Homo sapiens: one gene and its partners. The protein of the gene in region 1 purifies or fractionates together with the protein of each later gene. This does not show direct contact. Each region holds a gene or a part of one and is shown in the gene's direction. Other genes may lie near its edges.

Region 1 (4,228 bases):
GTTTCTTTCCCCACACGCAGTGGTTTTAAGTAAGAGGGAAGGGATCATGACAGAATCTTGGCAGGGGAAAGATGCTAGGAGAGAAGATGCACCTGGGCAGTCTTTGCTTCCCAAAGTCCCCAAACACTGGCCCTTCAAGAAGCTGGTTGGGGGGTGGGGGGAGCAGGAAAGAGGGTCCATGGTAACATAACACTGGGAAATACAGCCTAACCAGCCCCTCCTGCAGATCAGCAGTGTGCATGTTAAACATTTGAAATCCTAGAAGTAAAGAAGCCTAACTGGTTTTGTTTAGCCCAGTTTTTCCATTTAAAAATGTAGCCTAGTAAAATTTTGCAAAACAATGATGCAGAGCAGAGCTTGCAAACCGGCACCGATGGTCTGATATATTCCTGGGAGAGGTCTGATTTGGCCTACAAAGTGCTTAAATTTTGCTTTCAATTAGTCACTAACATTTCACAATTGGAATAGTTCTCCTAATAGATAAAGAGGGTATTCCTCTTGAAAAATCAGAAGATCTGGAAACACTGGTCCGTATTCTTGCCTGACTGTAGTCAGCTGGAAGCCAGGCTGTGGTTTTTAACTTGCTGCAGCCCCTGTGTCTCCTTAGGGCAAGACAACTATCTCTTGCTCTACTCATTTATGATGCTCATCGGGTTCCAGAGTCCCCCAAGCTTGCCTTCTCTGGTGTGGAGGTTTCCTTGGGTAGGCTGGCCTAGGTGACCATTGGGGCCCATTCATCCATTCACTCATGCAACATATACTGATTGAGCTTATACTGTGTGCTGCACCCTGTGGATACGAGATGGATAAAACAGCCCCTGCCCTCTGGATTCCAGCGCTGGCATTCTAAGATTCTAGTTGGGAACTGCAGAACGAGGAGGAGGGAGGGGTTGAGGAGAGGGGAGCTGGCAAGGCTACAACCAAGCTTCCTGACTTGCAGCCGCGGGGGCTTGCCAAAGTGCTTGCCATTCTCCATCGCTTTCTCTACCGGCTCACCGAAGGGAGCCGCCACTCCAACAGCCACGGTGAGCCTTAGAGACATAGCCACTGACTTGTTCTGTGACTTAGACGCGTTGAGGCTCATCTCCGGGCCTCAGTTTCTCCATCTGTAGAATGACCCGGTTGGACTAGGAAATGATGGGCTTTCCTTCCAGGGCTGGCACTCAGAGAGGCTAAGACTCCATGATCGAGGAATGTCTGACCCAGCCATTCTGGAGCTGTTCCATCGAATTCCAAGCAGCCCCACTCCCTCCTTTCCCCATCCCGGTCAGGGGCGGGCGCTGGAGCCAGCAGGCCGAGAGGGCCGGGGCTTCCCGCCCGGGAGGTGGAGCCGCTGCTCTGCGTCCCGCCCCTCCACCTGGGGCTCGGCCCGGCCCGGCAGATGTTACAACTTTTTCGAATTCTCTCCCGCCGTGTCCCCTCGACCCGCCCAACTTGTGCCTCCCTCCCCTTCCCCTCTGGGGTCCTGCCCACCTCCCTGCAGGGAGCTGGGCTGTTTTAAGGACTCCGGGTGGGGCGAGAGGCCGGGAAAGCAGAGGAGAGAGAAATTAGGAGGCGGGAGAAATCCAGGGCAAGAAGGAAGAGGGGAGTCAGAGGATGGTAGAGAGCACTTTTTGGAAGCTGCCACGCCGCGTCTCAGGCTGGCCGGGCTGAGCTGGGGAAGAGGGAGCAAAGGCGGCGCAGGGCCTGCGCTTAGGCAGCGGGAGGCAGCTCGGCGCGGGCCTGACCTCCCCAGAGCGCCCCGCTGCGGCCGAGCAGATCCGGCCCAGCCGTCCGGCAGCCAGTCCCGGACCAGACACTGGACCGTCCCCGGGGGGCGCTGAACTCCCTCGCAGCATCCGAGCCGGCGGGCCGGTGGTGCGCCCTGGGCGCGCGAGGTGGTGAGGCCCCAGGAGCCCGGCGCGCCGGGACGCGCGGGCCGGCTTGGCGATGCACACCCTCACTGGCTTCTCCCTGGTCAGCCTGCTCAGCTTCGGCTACCTGTCCTGGGACTGGGCCAAGCCGAGCTTCGTGGCCGACGGGCCCGGGGAGGCTGGCGAGCAGCCCTCGGCCGCTCCGCCCCAGCCTCCCCACATCATCTTCATCCTCACGGACGACCAAGGCTACCACGACGTGGGCTACCATGGTTCAGATATCGAGACCCCTACGCTGGACAGGCTGGCGGCCAAGGGGGTCAAGTTGGAGAATTATTACATCCAGCCCATCTGCACGCCTTCGCGGAGCCAGCTCCTCACTGGCAGGTAGGCGTGGCTCAAGGCCCCGGGGCTGGGCATCTAAACCCCAAATCAACCCAGTTGATAGATTTCTCCTGCCAGTACCACCCCATGCTGGGATCTGGGAAATCTCCTGTTGGCTGTGTAATCATTAGTAAGTCCCTCGCCCTCTCTAGGCCTCAATTACCCTTCCTTTACACTGAATGGGCTTCATCATCTTTGAGGTCTTCTTGCTTTGATGTTCCAGGACACTCACATTCCACACAACGTGGAGACATCTGGTCATCCCTTTGTTAGAGGAACATGGCAGCCTCTGACATTTACTGCTGCTTCTATTTATGGACCCCGAGACCCTGAGCAAGTCATTTAATTTCTCTAAGCCTCAGTTTTCTTGTCCATAAAATGGAGCAAAGAACAGTTTTCATCTTGAAAAGGAGTGGCAAAGTTGGAATGAGTTGTGTGTAACCTGCTTGGCTGTCAATATATGGCAGCCTCTATGTCTCCTGAGGGATTCAGGTCCCCATACTGCTTGATGAATACATTGGGAGAAGACCAAGGAATTGATAGGTGGAAGAGAAAGACACATAGGATACCATGACCTGTGTAGCCTTAGGGTGGTTACTTCATTTCTCTGAGCCTCTGTTTTTTCATCTGCAAAATCCTCCCAAGTTGGCTGGGAGCCCCAAGTAGACATGCTGCTTCCTCCACAAGGAAATGTCCACAGGCGAGGCAGCAGGATTACAGGATTAAAAGAGCAGGGAAACAGGAGGTGGGGGTATGGAAGGCAAACTCTGGCCACTTAGGAGAAAATCCTTTGGCAGTGCTGAAGCTAATTCTCCTTGGATGGGGTCCAAGGCATGCTTTCTCCCAAGTTCCACCCAAGAGCCACTAATGTGATCTCAGGAACCAGAAGCCTTAGTCTCCCTGTTTCTTAGTCTCACTATTTCTTGGATGGGAGAAATTGAGGCAAGGACTCAGGGAGGGCCTAGTTTGGTGCCCGTGCCCAACTTCAGGGTCTGTGGGAGATAGGATTGAGAGGCCAGGTGTTTGGCGGGGGTCCCGGAGCTGGGCATCAAATGGCGTCCTTTGTTCCTTCGATCTGGCACCCAGCGTTTAGATCCAGGAATCAGAAGGAGAACAGAAGAAAGAAGGAGGGGTGTGGGGTGTGTATGGGTTGGGGTGGTGGTGCAGGTTAGTGGTGTAGTGGTGAAGACCAATGTTGACCTGCAGAAGAGGGTGGAGGAGTCTGCATTCCCAAGAGTTATACACAACTTAGCGTTTCTGTCCTAAGAGGTGACTTTTGGTTTAAGTAGCGGAATGAGCAGACAGCAGGAGGGCAGTGCTCCAGTCCCCTGATCTGCGAAGCTAACTGAAGGTGGCCGGCCAGTGCCTGCCCTCCCCCACCCTGCAGCTGGCTCCATCTCATTGATGCTTACAGCCCTCGTTAGTGTTTGTTAACACATCCAGTTGTGTTTTGTGACACTGGAGAGAGGCAAAGTTTCTCTTGTGACTCACTTGCAGGTGGGCTTTGGTGACTCTTAGCTGGCCCATCCGCTTTACAAGCCAGCGCTCCACAGCACCCCACCTCTATGAAGACCGGCCCAGTTGGGACTCAGGGCCCTAGGGTGCTTCTCATATCAAATCCAATAATTTATTAGCTTGATTGAGGCCTGGAGAGGCCGTTATCACCAAAAGATTTTGAGCATGACTTGAGTGGACCCAGGTTCAAAGCTTAGCTCCACTGCTTGTCAGCTCTCTGAACTTGGGTCATTGCTGCACTTTCGGGGGACTTGGTTTTATCATCTGTAGAATGGGGGTGGTAATAGACTTCCCTGTAGGTTTTTAAAATGAGAGTTAAATGAGATAATGTATGTGTATGGCACATAGTGTTAAAAATGGCAGTAGTAGCTAATTAGAGCTAACAACAATAACAGCTTTAAGATAAGGAAACCAAAACAGAAACTCACTCCTGTGCTCTGGTTAAAGATGTCAGGTATTCAGGGCTTGGATTAATT
Region 2 (3,648 bases), on another chromosome or scaffold:
AGGGGTTAGGGGTGTCCTGAAAAATGATTCACCGTGGAGTAAAGCAGGTAACTGAGGATGTGAGCTGAGAAGCCACGCGGTTGTCTGGAGGTTGTTGCGGCCGGGTCTGCAGGGACTGACTGCTCCTCCTGTGTTAACTAGGTATGGCTATAACTGTGTGATCTACGGCTGGGACCCCACCTGCATGATGGGACACGAGTGGATCCGGAACATGAACGTCCACAGCCTGCCGCACGGCCACCACCAGCCTTTCTATAACGTGCTGGTGGAGGACGGCTCCTGTCGATACGCAGCCCAAGGTAAGCGGCGGGTTCCGCTTGTGCCAGTGGCCCCGCGGGCGTGTTTTCAGCGCACGTTTGAGCCCTCGGGTAGGTACTGTGGGCGTGGGCCATCGGTTCCTTCAGAGGCGGCCGACGCCCCATGGCCGGCCTCCTTCGGGCCCACAGTCAGCTAAACGTGGCTGGGTCTGCACAGGTGCCGCCCTGGCGAGGGGTCAGTAGTCATACCCGCCCTCCCCCAGGGCCTCCGCTCCCACAGCCCGGACATCTGATTGGCCACTGTCTATGCCAATCAAATTCCTGTAAGTCCTGCCTCCTGGACCCTGCCCTCGGCTCCTCCCAGACTAGAAGGGAACCGGATGAACACCTGGGGGCCCCCTAGTGCTCCCTGGCCTCCCAAGGCTGTGGCTGCCGGCTGACGCCGGAGATGCCCTCGTGTGGCCACCTGTGGGAACTGCAGCCCACTGCGCCGGCCCTGGGAGCACCTGAGAGCCCGCAAGTGTACAGTAAGGTTGGGTAGGCGTCTGGGCCACTGCCGCCCCGGCAGGTGCCAGCCCAGGGCAAGGCTGAGGTGGAGACTGACAGAGCCTGTGGAAGCTGGTAAGAGACAAGAATGCCTTCAGTGTGAGTCTCCCTTCTCTTTGTTCCTGTTGAATTTCACCTCTACTTAATAGGATGAATTCAGTGTATGTCTGTCAAAGCATTCACATTGATTAATTAATAATTCACATTTATTAATAAAAATGAATGTGAATGCTAATGTAGTGCCATTCTGTGACGGACATCATTCTAATGTATATTAACTCCATTTGAGAAACATCATCATCATCATTTTCTAGGTGAGGAAACTGAGGCACAGGGAAGCCATTGAGATTTTAACTTAGAGAACACGATTTGAAGCCAGGCAGCTTGACAGAGCCTCCTCTTCATCCATCATGCTGTACCTGCTCATGTCTGAGTTTTGACCTAACTCAATATTATGTTCTGATAAATCCAATAATCAAAATATGGGATGTATAAAAACCTCAGAACTTTCTGAAAGGCTGGAGATTGCCAGGTGAGGTGTCTCACACCTATAATCCCAGCACTTCGAGAGGGTGAGGCAGGAGGATTGCTTGAGCTCAGGAGTTGGAGACCAGCCTGGGCAACACAGCAAGACCTCATCTCTGCAATTTAAAAATTAACCAGGCAGAGTCATGTGCACCTGTGTTCCCAGCTACAACACAGCAAGACCCCATCTCTACAAAAAAATTTAAAAATTAGCCAGGCAGAGTAGTGTACACCTGTGGTCCCAGCTATTCAGGAAGCTGGGTTGGGAGGATCACTTGAGCCTGGGAAGTGAAGGCTACAGTGTGCTCTGATTGTGTTGCTGCACTCCAGTCTGGGTGACAGAGTGAGACCTCATCTTAAAATAAAAGGCTGGAAAATAATGATTATTGTCAGTTAATCAGAAACTGAAAGGATCCCCTGGAACAGCAGCATCAAGATAAATGTTTGTTGAAACTGCAGGTCGCTTGCCCTGTCTCAGTGTGATGGGGATGGTGTAAGGGGTTTCTGTGCTCCCTGTGGCAGATGGAGGCACCAACGGTAATGTTATTTAACTTTTGAAGCTGTGTCGAATATAAACAATCTCTAAAAATCAACACATGATTTGGACATTATTGACTGATTCACTGGGCCACTGGTGCCAGCACAAGTCACCTGGTAAACGCTTGATAGCCTACAACAAATGGCGTTCACAAGAATAAATGAGCATTTTCTTTTCAACAACACCGTGGGCCAGTGTCTATGGCTTTACCACATGGCATCATTATTCACTGTTTAGGGTTGGTCTTAAGTATTTGGTTTTAGGGGTTGTGATATGTTCACTTCAGAAGTTGATCTCTAATCATATCTAGGTAAACATGCAATGTAAGGTTTAGTCATAAAATTGTCATTACTGAAAAAATTAATATCTGCTTGTTGGTTTTACCATCTGTTAAATTGAGATGGAACTAAATGATGGGTAATGTTAGCAAATTGGCTTCTTGAATTTAAAACGTAGAACTTCAAAGCTGTTCCTACACTATGAGAGTTCCCGTCTTCTGCCGGCGGCTCCATCAGCGCTGTGTCAGCAAGCGCTTCCTGAGGGACTCGGAGTCCTGGGCCAAGGGGCAGATCTCCCCCAGCATGCCTGATACGTGGCTGTCTTCAGGGTCCTCCCTCTCCAGGGGACTCTCCTCTAGGCCTTCATCTCCTTCCCCCTTGGGGTGTCTGTGGATGTGCTGGTGACTCCCAAAGCCGTGTTCTCTGGGCTCTTCTCTGGGCTCCGTGCCCACCTCTGTAACAGCCCCCGGGCATGTGTGCTTGGAGGGCTCTCAGGGGTCTTCTCTCCAACATTGTTACCCCGACTCACTGAACCCATTGTTTTAACTCGATTATCTCTGTAAAGAAAGAAAAAACATGAACTCATTGTGCCCCCATACCCCCCTTGCTCCTGCCTGCCCCATCTCACTAGTGACACCACGTGGGGGCCGTGTCTTGCTCTTCTCCCCTTGCCCTCGCGATACATCTGTCTACACACCCACTGCTGTCTCCTCATGTGTCTCCCATTTCCATTCTGGTGGTCTCTGCTTGCCTACTTCCTAACTGGCACCTGCCTCCCGGCCTGTCCCCAACCGGGCATTTTCCTTAGCAACAGCAAGAGGATCTTCCTAGCGTGTCCCTGGACCGGGCCACTTGCTGCTTGAATTGACTGACCATCAGGAGTTTCTCATCGGCAGGCAGTGCAGAATGCTTTACCAGGCCCTAGGGATCTGGCCTTCCCCTTACAGCCCCAGCACGGTTCCCACGCCTGACATACTCCAGCCCACTTCCGTTCATCTTCTTTGAAGTCATCATTCTTGCTCGCACGTGGAACAGTTAAAAGAATACATCAAATACCCCCATTTACCCTCTAGTCAATTCAACAGTAAATGATTCCCATATTTGCTTTATCTATAGAGATTTTACTGTTTTCCTGCACCATTTGAAAGAATATTGCAGACATGACCTAATTATGTCTGAGTATAAGGAGATTCCTCTGCATAACCAAATTACATTATCACACCTAGTAACAATTATTTTATAATATCTAATAGTTTTCAAATTTCTCAATTGTCACAAAATAACTTTATGCCTATTTTTGGCTTGTTTCTTAAAATCAGTATCCAACCAGAATTCATTCACTGCATTTGGTTGTTTTTTTTCTCTTTAGTCTCTCTTATTAAAGACAGTTCCTCATTCTTCATTTTTTTTCCCCCCTTTTTCATATGACTTTGACTTTTTGAAGAATCCAGACTGGTTGTCTTGTAAATTTTTTTTTTTTTTTGAGACAGGGTGCTCTGTCACC
Region 3 (3,648 bases), on another chromosome or scaffold:
ATGGCGCTTTCTATGTGCCCTCACATGGCCAAAGGGGCAAGCAAGCTTCCTCAGGCTTGTTTTATAAGTACACTAATCCCATTTGTGAGGGCAGAAATCTCATGTCTAATCACCTTCCAATCACTTCCATAATCACCTTTTAATACCATCGCCTAGGGGGTTAGTTTTTAACATATGACTCTGGGGGAGGAGAACATACATTCAGACCATAGCAATCCCCAAATACTTTAGTGTGTATTTTCTACAAAGAAGGACATTTTCCTGTACTAGCAGTATAACCATCAGAAGTAGAAAATTAACATTGATTCATTATTACCATCCAATCCTTAGATCCCACTGGAGTTTCGCTTGTTGTTCTGATAATATTTTTCTAACAAAAGAATCCAGTCCATGGTTATATGTCACATTTAGTTGTCATGTCTTTTTAATCTTCATTAGTACAGAACAGTTTCTCAGTCTTTCTTTGATTTTCATGACCTTGACACTTTTGAAGATTACAGATGAATTATTTTGTAGAATTTCCTCAATTTGGATTTTTCTGATGCTTCCTCATTATGAGATTCAGGCTATACATCTATGGTGGGAATTCAGGGAAGTGATATATCCTATCAGGTGACACATGATTTCAGTTTGTCCCAGAACTGATGATATTCACTTTAATCCCTTGATTGAGGTGGTGTCTCCCAGGATTTTCCTCTGTAAAAGTTTTTTTCCCAGTTTATAATTAATATGTTTTTTGGGCTGGGTGTGATGGCTCACGCCTGTAATCCCAGCACTTTGGGACGTCAAGGTTGGCAGATCACTTGAACCCAGGAGTTGAAGACTAGCCTAGGCAACATGGTAAAACCCCATCTCTACAAAAAAATACAAAAGTTAGCCAGGTGTGGTGGCATGTGCCTGTAGTTCCAGCTACTTGGGAGGCTGAGGTGGGAGGATTGATTGAGCCCGAAAGGTCGAGATTGCAGTGAGCAGTGAGCTGAGATTGCACTGCACTCCAGCCTGGGTGACAGAGTGAGACCCTGTCTCAAAAATAAATAAAAATAGAATTAATATGTTTATGTGAGATAGTACTATGAAACTGTAAATATCTCATTCTTTATCTTACTTTGATTTATTCATTATTTTTATTTGTATGGAATCATTGTTTCCTATTTTATTTAATAGGTTATAATCCATTACTATCATTACTTATTTACATGATCATCTTGTTCCCAGTTTGACCAGGGAGAGCCTCTTCAGTGTGGCTTCTGTGACTTCTTTTGTCTTTTGATATATCCCTTTCATTCTTTGAACATTTCCTTGCTTTTGGTACAAGATCACCTAAGCTCATCTTGAACATTCCATGCCCTACTCTTGGAACCAGCCATTTCTCCCAGAATGCCTAGCTCCTTTTAGTGGATCTGGGCACTAATGTGCTCTTTGCTTTTGAAATGTCATTGTTCCCAGATCCTCTTTTTTCCCTCTCCATACATGTAACTGGAGTTCCAGAAGGCAAAGAGGGAAAGAATCCATAGACTCCCATAGACCCCATAGATTTTGAGCACTCCGTTGTGATTTTTTTCTGCCAGTCTTCTTCTTTTTGTATTTCAGTTCAGTAATTTCTTTTTTTGTTGTTGTTTTGTTTTGTTGAGTAGGGTCTCACTGTGTCACCCAGGCTGGAGTGCAGTGGTACAATCATTGCAGGCTCATTGCAGCCTCAAACTCCTGGGCTCAAGCGATCCTCCTGCCCCAGCCTCCCAAGTAACTGGGACTACAGGCATATACCACTATGCCTGGCTAATTTTTTTTAATTTTTTGTAGAGAAGAGATCTTGCTGTGATGCCCAGGCTGGTCTCAAACTCCTGGCCTCAAGCGATCTCCTGCCTCAGCCTTTCAAAGCGCTAGGGTTACAGGCATGAGTCACTGTGCCTGGCTCAGTTCAGTAATTTTTATTGGTCTATCTTCAGGTTCACTGATTCTGTCCTTGGATGTGCCCGGTCTGATGATAAACCTGTTGAAGGAACTTTTAATCTGACTTTTTTTTTTTCCTGGCATTTGTATTTGACTTTTTTTTTTTTTTTTTTTTTTTTGAGACAGAGTTTTGCTCTTGTTGCCCAGGCTGGAGTGCAACGGTGCAATCTTGGCTCACCACAACCTCCACCTCCTGGGATCAAGCGATTCTCCTGCCTCAGCCTCCCGAATAACTGGGATTAAAGGCATGTGGCACCAAGCAGCTAATTTTGTATTTTTAGTAGAGATGGGGTTTCTCCATGTTGGTCAGGCTGGTCTCAAACTCCCGACCCCAGGTGATCTGCCCACCTTGGCCTCCCAGAGTGCTGGCCTTTACAGGCCTGAGCCACTGCACCCAGCCTGTATTTGACTTTTTATTGTTTCCATCTCTGCTGAAATTTTCTATCTATTCATAGATGTTGTCTATCTTTCTCAACTAGATCCTTTAACATAAACATATTAGTCCAGCCTGGGCAATATAGCAAGATCCTGTGTATAAAAAAATATAAATAAATAACATAAACATATTAATCATAGTTATTTTATATCTCCTGTCTGATCAAACATCTGGCTCATCTGAGAGCCTGCCTCTGTTGTTTACTTATTTCCTGACAGTGGGTTTTTTTTTTTACTTTTTGTATGTCCTGACATTTTTAATTGAGTGGTAGTATATTAGTTTTCGTTATAGTCATGAATTGGGCTGAATTTAGAGTTCATTGTATATCAACAAAGGCTTCAAATTCCTCCAGCAGTGGACTGCTATAACCTTGTGATTTGAGGTTACCAAAGGACATTCCTCAGTGCTTCTGCTTTACCCTCAGCCTTCAGCTACTTCTGCACATGTGTGCCACAGAAGTGTCCTCTTTTCAAGTACCTGCCTCATCTGCCGCACTAGACTGCTGCTCTTTGTTTCCTGGGGCTAAGCACACGGTGAGGGCAAGTGGGGTTCTTGGATCTCTGGTGCAGTCTCAGTCTTAGGCAGACCTCTGTGAGGGGCAGGGTTTTCTCAATATTCCTGCCTCTCCTATCTGTAGCAGCCAAACTTTGCCTTGAATCTGTGGTGGGTCTTGGGCAAGACATATTTTCCTGCCCTTCCTGGAGAGCTGGAGAGGTAGCAGATCCTTACTTTGTATCAGTGAACTGTCCTGGGCCCAAGAGGTTTTCCTGTGCCTCTCCCAGAGGCAGAGTTTTTGCTTCTGCCTTCCTCCAGACACAGTGGATCTTTGCCTAGTCCCTAATGGCAGGCCCAATTCCTGCTCTTCCTACAGCTTGAGGCTTTGGTTCCTATGAGAGAAGAGTGTAGGGAAGTGCCCAGGTTTCATGTCTGTTTCTGAGCACAGCCAATCAGCTCCCTGCCCCAGTCTTTGTTTTGAGCACTGGGTGGAAGCCTCTGGAAAACAGCCTGCATGTGAATGGGAAATCTACTTGTGTCTGGAGCTTCAAAAAATTCCACATTGACACACTTTCCCACACCCAGCCTTTCGTAATTGTTCAAAAGTTTAGCTGATATTTTCTTATTCTTATCTGTGGCAGCCATTTCTTCCCCCCATGCACTGCCAAAGGTGAAACAGTCTTCCCTCTCTCTTTAAAAGGATTTGTCACTCTTTGGAGGGCAGTTCACTTCTGTGCTTTATGACCTCAAATCTTTGATGGGCTCAA

The links.
Region 2: the proteins of ARSI (region 1) and FBXO21 purify together in Homo sapiens (affinity purification with mass spectrometry; one large-scale study listed by BioGRID and IntAct). This does not show direct contact.
Region 3: the proteins of ARSI (region 1) and AHCYL2 purify together in Homo sapiens (affinity purification with mass spectrometry; 2 studies listed by BioGRID and IntAct, with this or other methods). This does not show direct contact.

Annotation. Positions count from the first base shown.
Region 1 is NC_000005.10:150,300,075-150,304,302, reverse strand, and holds the start of ARSI (arylsulfatase I precursor), read left to right. Parts: upstream 1-1,397; 5' UTR 1,398-1,929; coding exon 1,930-2,240; intron 2,241-4,228. UniProt on the Homo sapiens protein: Displays arylsulfatase activity at neutral pH, when co-expressed with SUMF1; arylsulfatase activity is measured in the secretion medium of retinal cell line, but no activity is recorded when measured in cell extracts. Lacks arylsulfatase activity.
Region 2 is NC_000012.12:117,152,442-117,156,089, reverse strand, and holds part of FBXO21 (F-box only protein 21), read left to right. Parts: intron 1-141; coding exon 142-299; intron 300-3,648. UniProt on the Homo sapiens protein: Substrate-recognition component of the SCF (SKP1-CUL1-F-box protein)-type E3 ubiquitin ligase complex.
Region 3 is NC_000007.14:129,392,396-129,396,043, forward strand, and holds part of AHCYL2 (adenosylhomocysteinase 3), read left to right. Parts: intron 1-3,648. UniProt on the Homo sapiens protein: May regulate the electrogenic sodium/bicarbonate cotransporter SLC4A4 activity and Mg(2+)-sensitivity. On the contrary of its homolog AHCYL1, does not regulate ITPR1 sensitivity to inositol 1,4,5-trisphosphate.